Linked DNA regions of Homo sapiens. The protein of the gene in region 3 purifies or fractionates together with the protein of the main gene of each other region. This does not show direct contact. Each region holds a gene or a part of one and is shown on either strand. Other genes may lie near its edges.

Evidence for each region.
Region 1: the proteins of DNAJC5B (region 3) and SLC30A7 purify together in Homo sapiens (affinity purification with mass spectrometry; one large-scale study listed by BioGRID and IntAct). This does not show direct contact.
Region 2: the proteins of DNAJC5B (region 3) and ST13 purify together in Homo sapiens (affinity purification with mass spectrometry, with the first as the bait; one large-scale study listed by BioGRID). This does not show direct contact.

What each region holds. Positions count from the first base shown.
Region 1 is NC_000001.11:100,979,035-100,982,279, reverse strand, and holds the end of SLC30A7 (zinc transporter 7), read right to left. Parts: 3' UTR 523-3,245; downstream 1-522. UniProt on the Homo sapiens protein: Zinc ion transporter mediating zinc entry from the cytosol into the lumen of organelles along the secretory pathway.
Region 2 is NC_000022.11:40,843,104-40,846,764, reverse strand, and holds part of ST13 (hsc70-interacting protein), read left to right. Parts: intron 1-1,855; coding exon 1,856-1,926; intron 1,927-3,661. UniProt on the Homo sapiens protein: One HIP oligomer binds the ATPase domains of at least two HSC70 molecules dependent on activation of the HSC70 ATPase by HSP40. Stabilizes the ADP state of HSC70 that has a high affinity for substrate protein.
Region 3 is NC_000008.11:66,094,553-66,098,213, reverse strand, and holds part of DNAJC5B (dnaJ homolog subfamily C member 5B), read right to left. Parts: intron 1-3,661.

The DNA.
Region 1 (3,245 bases), on a different chromosome or scaffold from region 3:
GACATGCTGAGGATAAAGCCTTGAAGTATGGCAGAGATTGATGATAGTAAAGAAGCTGCTTTGGTAAGAATACCTTTGAGAAGGAAGGTGACATGAGTGGTGCATGGGATACTGTGGAAGAAGTTATTTTAAAAAAGAATTGCATCTAATCAGAGGGAAAAATTTGGAAGGATAATGGAGGCTCACATCAGATGTTTTGGTCTTCACGTCATATAAGACAAAGTCATCCATAGAAACTGAGATGAGAGAACAACTTGGGAGTGATGGAAATATCTGGAAGTAAATACTTCGAGACATGTTTATGAGGTCAGATGCTGACTAAGAGCCACAATGAGGCTGTTCACAATGTAAAGATACTTCCAACCTCCTAGCATCTCTTCTCTCCTAGTAAGTTCTGCTGTTTCTTGGCTCTGAGAATCATTCTTTGCCTTTCATTCCTTAAGTCCTCTAGTATCTATTCCAATACCTGTAAGATTCACAGTGTTTGTTTCAGTTCGTCAAACTGATAAGACACAATTCAGGTAGAGATTTTTAAATAGAAATTTTATTGAAAGAATTTTGATACAGTTCATGATTCTTTTTAAATACATATGAAGTTTAACAAAATATATACATGAATGTGTTCAAGTAGAAAATGTGAAATATACATTATAGATTTGTTGTATTGCACTTGGGCAAATCATAATTGCTCACTTCAGCATATTCAAACCGAATCACAACATAGTCTTTGAAAGTTGACATTATAACTTAGCCTTGTACTCAAACATTTTAAGAAATGTTTTGATGCCTTAATCTTCACCAAAGGAATCAAACCCAAATACTAACTTGGCCATATGTTTAAATACCACTAAAGGCAGGGAGGTAAAGTGTTGTAGGGTGCTTAAAATATACTAAGAAGGGATTTGGCAATTTTCCATTCACAGTATTTCCAATATAAAAGACTCATCCTATTTATCAAACTCACAAAAGTTGGGGGAAAATATCACTTGGGAAAAAATTTCACTGAATTGCTATCAAAGGAAGCAATGAAGTTACTTGACAAACTATTGACAGGATGTCTAGTTCAAAATAGAATCTTCATTGAGGCTAACTGTAGCACAGTATGTGATACATAAACAAAATTCAAATATTAAAATTCTAAATAAAAAAATTTTCCCCGCTAGTATAAAGTAGAAGTTCTATAGTGGAAATAACAATGAAAACAGATGAAAAATCAGTGAAGAAATAGAGGGAGGTACTACTAAAATTTTGTGTTTGAGAGGAAAAAGAGAAAGGTAAAAAATAATTCTGGGAATATTTAAATCAGTAATTGAATACATGTAGTGATGTCTTTAAAGCACCTTCAAGAAAGACCTCTTTCATTTTGGATGACAATACATTAGGATAAATGAAATATGTGAATATGGCAATTTTCCATAAAAACAAAGGAGACTATGGAGACTGTCTGGTTCCTGATTTGGCCATACAAAATATAGAAAATTCAAGTGACCCAGGTTCCACAGTCCCAATTCTGTCAAATTCCGATCCAACAATTTGTAAAATGGATAACATCTGTATACTTCCACTGTATATGAAAAAGAATGAGCAGCTCATAGGGCTACTTAAAAAAAAAAATGGCCAAGGTGAATATATAGTCATTTATTTGTGCAAAAATGCCAAAGAAATGCTGAGATGTCTTCTGTAAAAAACAGTAAATTACTGGTTTTACCTATCCCTAACCCTTATTTTTGACACAACTATCTAAAATGTTCACTAGTTAACCAAACATTTACTCAGCATGTGAATCCATGCTAAGTTTGAGGATAAAAGGATGCAGAAGAGAAAGATATTCTTTATTACAAGCTTTCCAACATCATGATCAAAATTACAAATAATTTTCAAGGCTGTTGTAAGAAGTCAACATTAAATGTTAAGTTTAAGCATAGATTACTACTATTTATGAAACAGATTTCTTCCTTTTGAAAGGTGTGTATAAAATGTGATGTAAATCAAATCTACTTATCCTTCTCCTGCAGTGCAAAATTACTTGTACTTTTGGGGAAGATAATTCCCTAATAAACTAAATTAAGGTCTCTTGGATAGAAATTCAGTTTCTCTCTTCATACAGCCACAAAGGGTACTATCTTTTCATTCAGTCCCTTAAGCAGCTTACTCTTCAATGCCAACAAAACTTTATTTTTTAAATAGTCTTAAAAGTGCTTAAGGGAGTTCTGGTTCCTCTTTTTAGCCTGCACAGTTTAAGATCAATGGTAAAGGTAGGAAATAATCATAAGGGCACTGGAAGAAGGAATGAGTCTAAATAATGTATAATGACTGTTCCGCCATACCAATTTTGTCATGGTGATTATTCACTAATTTTATAGGAGAGTGTATTGAGATCTGCTACAGCTTCTTGGATCTTTGAAGCACTGCTGAATTACATACACAAAGCAGAGCAGATGTCAGCACCTGATTAATCAGTACTCTACTACTGGCTAGATTCCCCAGGCAAGTCACTTAAATTATCTCCAAACAGCTTCCTCATCTGTAAAATAAGGATAAAAATTCCTTCCTCACAGAGATGTTATGAGAATTAGAGGAGATTTGAAAATGCTCCGTCAATCATAAAATCATGCAAAATTATTCCTTTGTAGAAATTTGAGGATTAAATGTAATAACATGAAGGCCACACTAACCGCCTGGCACATAAATACTTAATAAAAGTTATTCCCCATTCTCACTTTCTGTGTAATTTGCAGTTAGGAAATATAAATCAAAGACACCCTTGTCAGACTCACATCCATTTGGCTTTAACTAGAACTGTCCTTCCCTGCTCCTTTTCTTTTTTTTTTTTTTTTTTTTTTGGATACATAATCTTTCACTGTATTTGAGGCTATCTTGAGTCTCTGGTTGAGATCTGGGTCACTAAGGCTTCTGGGGGATCATGTCTTCAACAAGCCTTCCAATGAATGTCCAAAGAAAAACATATAATTTCCTTTTATTTTTTTTTTTACCAAAGTTCTTATGAATTGGAAAATAATTTGTTTCAAAGACGGTGATGAAAGGAAAAAAAAAGTTTAACTTTCCAAAGGTAATGCTTTCATGAAGAGTTAGAAATAGCAGTTTTAGTAATTAGTTGTAGGAATTCTGGTTAAGACTTCAACATTTTACCTTACTTAAAAGATTTGCTTTATGCAACATTTAATGCCCAGTTTTGCATGGCTCTAAAAATCTTTAAAATGCAAAAGCTTTTCCAGTGACTGGAA
Region 2 (3,661 bases), on a different chromosome or scaffold from region 3:
CGTCTTGGCCTCCCAGAGTTCTGGGATTACAGGTGTGAGCCACCACGCCTGGCCTGAATCAAATTATCTTTGATATCATTAGAGGTCTTACATTCTACTGGCAGTTGTTTGAGTGCTAAATTGAAGATCTTTTACTTTTTATAAAATGCCTCTTTAGTCTTACTTTCTACCAGTTTCTAAAACTACAATAAATTTTTTAACCAACTCTCCACCTAAAAGTGTTTTCTTTTTTGTATACAAATCAAACTTTGATAGACAAGCTTAGTTGCTGTTAAAAAATGGATTAAAATTTTTTTACCGTGTTAAAGGGCATAAACTTTGAGCTATAATCTGAATAAATTCCAGAGATCCAGTATACAGCATGACTATAATACTGTATACTTGAAATTTGTTAAGAGACTGGATCTTCAGTGTTCTCACCAAAAACAAATAAATATGTGAGATGGATAGTTATTAATATGATGGGTGAGAATCATTTCATTATGTGAGGTGCAGTAAAGTGAAACACAATAAAATGAGGTATGCCTGAGGTCAGGCACGGTGACTCACACCTTTAATCCCAGCACTTTGGGAGGCTGAGGCGGGTGGACCACCTGAGGTCGGGAGTTGGAGACCAGCCTGACTAACATGGAGAAACCCCATCTCTACTAAAAATACAAAATTAGCCAGGTGTGGTGACACATGCCTGTAATCCCAGCTACCTGGGAGACTGACGCAGGACAATTGCTTGAACCTGGGAGGCAGAGGTTACGGTGAGCCAAGATTGCGCCACTGCACTCCAACCTCGGCAACAAAAGCGAAACTCCGTCTCAAAAAACGATATGCCTGTATGTTAAAACATCGCATTGTACACCATATACATATATGTATATATATAGTTTGTCAGTCATGCGTCAAGTTTTGTTGTTGCTGGACAGTAATTCTGATTTTAGGTGGGTGATTTTAAATTTTTTTTTTTTGACTAAGGAAACTTCTTATCAAATTAACTATTTGCAAATGTGTTCTTTTTAAATGATACGTGCGTGTGTGTGTGTATATATATATAAAACTCGTTTTCCACTTGCAACAAATTACAGTTGTCATTTAACTGACAACTGTTAAATGACAATTTGAAAAGCAAGATACTGCTTTTCATTCTTTACTGTTTTGGTTGTAAGTACTAGCTTTGGTCACTACTGTACATATGGAAACTAAATTTATTTTTAAATCTAGCCTTGGTACTTGATTCTGCATCAGTAGTAAGCCTTTATTTTAAAATTAAAACTTGTCCATGCTACTTTTAAAAATGAAAATAATTAGGGACCAGGTGCAGTGGCTCATGCTTGGAATCCTAGTGCTTTGGGAGGCCGAGGTGGGAGGATTTCTTGGACAACATAGTAAGATCCTGTGCCCCCCCCAAAATTATTTTAATTTTAAAAAAGGAAAGTAATGAATGTAATTATATTAAAATATTTTGATTTACGTTGAAGTATCACTGTAGCTTACCTGCATATTTTTGAAAAACATAGTACATCAGTGTGTAGAAAAAAATTATTTGAACTAAATCAGTTTGTTGACAATGGTGTATTTATATACAATGACTAAATCAGTGGTGTATTTATGTGTAATACTAGAAACTGCACATGTCAACAACCCCACTACAACCTGATAATAAATATCTTACATGATGTGACAGTTAACGTAAAGTGTAGTCTTACCAAAGTAACGAAATGTTTAATGGGAACATATTTTAAAATGCATCAATACTTAAAATAATTAATTGTAGTAGTCATAGTATGTCAGTTTTTAATAATCTTGGGAGTGGCTACTATATTGTACGGTGCAGGTCTTATTGTCATTTTCTCGACTTTGGCAGAAATTGATAAAGAAGGTGTGATTGAACCAGACACTGATGCTCCTCAAGAAATGGGAGATGAAAATGCGGAGGTAAGTTCGGTGACTTGATTTCCTGCTTGTTCTAAGAAATGTGAAAGGTCCTGCTGTTGCAATGATTTTATGACACGATTCTTCCAGGAAAAGCGCATAGTAAATCTTTCTCTGACTTCAGGCGTTTTAGGCAAGCATTGTATTTTACTACTTAAAATACTAATGAAAATAAATACTGTTACTTTCTGTTTTATCTGTTTTTTAAGTTTGCATCTGGTGTGACTGCTTGCACTGTAACGCAGAATTCACTTAAAATACATACCTATTAGTGGAGTTGCTCTTGATGGAATATCTAATGCCAAATTGTATTACAGAATGGTTTGTCATAACAGGCCCTCAAGGGAGTGAAAATTGGTTCTTGGGAGGAGGGCTTAAAAAAAATTCTATATATTACAATGGTTAGTGGTCCTCCAAAGACTCATAGAATATTAATATGTAGTGTATCTGTGGTATTAAAATTGGGGATATGGAAATGAGGAAAAGATGTCTAAAAAGGCTCCTTAGTGTCTGATAAAAATTTGAGAAACACTCTAATATAGTAATAGCAGTTTTAAAAGATTGGTTTTTATCCTCAAAACTTGATATTATCAGATTTCATCTTTGCCAAGTATTGTGGGAAATGGTATCTTTTTGTGGCTTTTAATTTGCATTTTCCTGGCCAGACAGGGTGGCTCACGCCTGTAATCCCAGCACTTTGGGAGGCCGAGGTGGGTGGATCATCTAAGGTCAGGAGTTTGAGACCAGCCTGGCCAACATGGTGAAACCCCGTCTCTACTAATAATACAAAAATAAGCCAGGCATGATGGTGCACGCCTGTAATCCCAGCTACTTGGGAGGCTGAGGCAGGAGAATCACTTGAACCCAGGAGGCAGAGGTTGCAGTGAGGTGAGATCGCACCCCTGCACTCCAGCCTGAGCGACAGAGCAAAACTCTATTTAAAAAAAAAAAAAAAAATGCATTTTCCTGATTCCTAATGAGGCTGAGCATATTTAAATGTTTATTGGCTGTTCACTGGCATTTGCGAACTCCTGTTTAAACTTTTTCCACTTTTTGCTGGATCTTTTTCTTACTGCTTTGTATTTCATTTCAATATTCTGGATGCTAATAATTTGTTGCTAGTGCTGCATATATTTTCTGCTAGTTTGTGACTCATCTTCACTCATCTTTCTTCATGTTGTTTCAAAAATAGTATCTTTTAATGCAGATATTTTCTGCTTTATTACTTTGAGGTTATAATTGCTGTAGTGCATTGCTTTTTCTCTTCTGAACATTTTATACACTCACCTTTCACCTTTAATCTACCGGTCCCACCAAAACTAAAATACACTGTTTCTGAATATTGTGGGTCTGTTTCAGGAGTTTATTGTTCTGCTTGTCTATTTTTTTTCTGTTCACTAATGCCACATCGTCTGATACTAAGTCTTGTTATTTTGTAGAACAAGGACCCCCAAAACTTTTTAGTCTTTTGGCTGTTCTTGGCTTTTTGTTTTTCCAAGTAAATTTTAGAAATAGGTTGATCAAGTCTCCCCGCTTCCATTGGTTTTTTTCCCCTTTGTTAGAATTGTGTTAAATCTAAATCAAGTTCGGGAAAAGATATATCTCCTCACCATTGAGATAAACTATCCATAAATAATGTTATCTGCCCAATTTTTAGGTGTTTTTAAAATATTTTAATAACTTACTAACGTGTTCCCCATAAGTCTTGTGCTTTGTTTTTTTGAGACAGTGTCTCACT
Region 3 (3,661 bases):
ACAAAAAAATCATATTTAAAACATCTTAGTCACATTGCAGAACAAAAGATAAAGATTTTGGGCTGGGTGCAGTGGCTCACGCCTGTAATCCCAGCACTTTGGGAGGCCGAGGCAGGCAGATCACCTGAGGTCAGGAGTTCAAAACCAGCCTGGCCAATGTGGTGAAACCCCGTCTCTACTAAAAGTACAGAAAAAGATTAGCCAGGCCTGGTGGCAGGTGCCTGTAAGCCCAGCTATTTGGGAGGCTGGGGCAGGAGAATCGCTTGAACCCAGGAGGTGGAGGTTGCAGTGAGCCAAGATTGTGCCACTGCACTCCAGCCTGGGTGACAAGAGCGAAACTCCGTCTCAAAAAAAAAGAAAAGACAAGGATATTAAAAGCAATCTTACTTCTCAATAGCAAATATGGAAGCTAAAACTATGGAGCTAAAAAAACTGTGAAGCTAAAACATATTGAAACTATGTCTCCAATATACTGAAAGAAGACATCAACCTATATTTTTTGACAAACCCTCTTAATAAGTTACATTTCTTTTTTAAAAGAGCATGATAAAGATATTTTCAGTCAGTAAAAACAAATTTTTCTAACTGCAGACCCAATTTAGAGATATAATTCAGGCAGAAACAGTTATCAGATGAAAGAATTGAGCTGTAAAAAGAAAATAATTGAAAAAAAAACCCAGAAAATATGTCAGTAAAACCAAATAATTATTGAATATACAAAGCAATAATAAAAATTTACGAGGCTTAAAATTGAGAAAAATCTAAAATATAAAAATAATGTATAAGTCAGAAATAGGTTGATCAGGGTTAACGTGTTACAAAATTCTTGTATTGTTCAAGAGGAGGGTAAAGATAAGAATTGACTTTAAACTTTGACAAATTAAGTACATTTGATAAATTTTCAGGGTAATTCCAAAAGAACAGAAAAGAGAATATAATTTCCAAATCAGAGGACAGAAGGAAATCAAATAAGAAAAGACACTCTGACAATTTAAAAGAAAAAAAAAAAAAGAAACAGGAAAAACATGTCAACTTAAAGTGATAAATATAATGATAAAAAAATTACCAGAAAGTAGGTATATGTATATATCTTATTACATGTCCAGCAGTGTTCTTAGCACTTTATGTATATTAACTCACTCAATAGTTATAATAATGCTATGAGGTAGGGTTGTTATTATAACCATTTTACAAATAAGAAAATGGGCACAGACTGTGTAACTAGGCCAAGGTTACACGGGTAGTGAGCAATAGAGCTGATATTCAAACCAAGGCAGTGTTTCTCAGAGGTCTGTTCTCTTCAAGACTATTTCTCTATTGCCTCTCACGAAAAGTAGGTTAGTAGAAAAAGATCAAAGTACATTATATTGAAGATAATAAATACCAATGGATATAGTACTCTATTTAAAAGAAAAATATTGTCAGACTGAATTTTAAAAACCCAAGCTACATTTAAAAATAAGGATAAAAATAGAGACTAAAATGATGAAAACATATTTACCACACAAACACTAGTGGGAAGAAAGCTAATGTAAGTATATTTTAATGGACAAAATAAGATATAAGACAAAAGCATTTCTGGGGCTAGAAGTGACTCCATAATAATAAAATGTTTAATTCACCAAGTAGCTGTAAATATTCTAAACTTATATATACTAATAACATAACCTCAAAATCAAAATCATAAATCAAAAATCGAAAGAACTTTATAGAGAAATAGAAAAATTCATCATCACTGTGGAAAATTTGACTGCTTTCAGCACCTAACTCATGAAATCAAGCAAGGAAATCTTATGTAGAATTTGAAAAGGACTATGTTATGGACAGAATTGTGTCTCCCCAAAATTCGTATGTTGAAGTCCTAATTCCTAGTACCTTACAATGTGATCATATTTGGAGATAGGGTCTTTAAAGAGGTAATTAAGTTAGAAGGAAGTCACTAGAGTGGGCCCTAATCCAACAGGACTGGTGTCCTTACAAGAAGAGATTTGGACACAGAGGAAACACCATGTGAAATCATAGGGAGATGAACAGCTACAAAACAAGAAGAGGGGTGTCAGAAGAAACCAACCCTGCTACCTTGATCTCTGACTTCTGACCTCCAGAACTGTGAGAGAATAAATTTCTGTTGTTTAAACCCCCAGTTTGTAGTACTTTGTTATGGCTGCCTTAGCAAACTAATATATACAATAAATTAGCTTTATTCAATAGACATATATGGAACAATGAACATAACAAATGCAGAATGTGTTGTTTTGAAGCAATGTGGAACATTTATAAAAACTGGCTAAGTTCCAGGCTGTACAGCAAGTCCTAAGACATTTCAAAGCACTGGTATCATAGTGTTGACATTTTCTGATCACAGAGCAGTCAAGTTAGATACAAACAACAAAAAGTAACCTCGAAATCCCAAGATTGAAAATTAAGATATACACAGGCCTAGCTTAAAGAAAAAATCATAATAGAAATCAGAAAATATTTAGAACTCAGATGATGAGAACAATATAAGAACATTGTATGTGTGTGTGTGTGTGTGTGTGTGTGTGTGTGTGTGTCAAGCTAAAGTATAACTTATAAGAAAATTCAAAATTTATAGTCTTAAATTTTTAATGTAAGAACAGAGGAAGGGCTGAAAATTAAGAAGTACAAAAATTAAGAAGTTAGAAAATGAACAAAATAAACTGAGAAATAAGAAAGAAAGAAAGAAATTAAGTAGAAACAATCAACAAAACCAAAAGTTGTTTATTTGAGAAGACTGATAATATTGTAAGACATCTGGTGAGAATGGTTAAAAAAAAGAGAGAGAGAGAGAAAGCAGAAATGACCAATGTAAAGAATAAAAAACAGAATAATCATGCAGATACTATAGATGTATGAAGGATAAGAGGAAATCTTGAAGAAACCATTTTTTCTTTTTGTAAATAAAAAAGAAGGGAAACCTAACTGGTCTATAAACATTAAGTAAATTAAATCAATAGTTTAAAATTTGCACAGTTACATGCTAGCCCAGAAAGTTCTTCAGAATCCTGTAGAAAGAATCCCAGTATTACACAAACTCTCCAAGAGAAGTAAAAAACAAAGGAATACTTCGTAATTTATTTCATGAGGCATAATCTTGATACAAAATACAGTAAGGAAAGTTTGAGAAAGGGAAATTATAGACCACTCTCATTAATATTGTCACAAACATCTAAAACAAAATATTGACCAGCTCATTTCATCAAATAATACAATAGTCAATACATGAAGACTATGCTGAATTTAATTATCTAAGGAGTGCAAAGTTGTTTTAATATTGGAAAACCAATTCACATAATTCATCACATTAACAGATCAAAGGAGAAAAATCATGACCATCTCTGATGAAGAAAAAATATTTGAAAAAATTTTACATCCGTGATCAAATATGAAGGTCTAACAAAATAGGAATAGAAGACAATTTTCTTAACCTGATCAAAAACCTACGGCAAACCTACTAATTATGATGCAACCCTGAAAGTACCTTCTCTTCAACATTTTACTAGTAGTCTTGGCAAACACAGAAAGGCAAAACAAAAACTGGGTTCACATACTTGGTGCGGTTTAAAAAAAATAAAAAATGATAAGAGATGGAGGGGAAGAATCAAAACTGTCAGTACTCACAGATGAGACAAACAGTTAA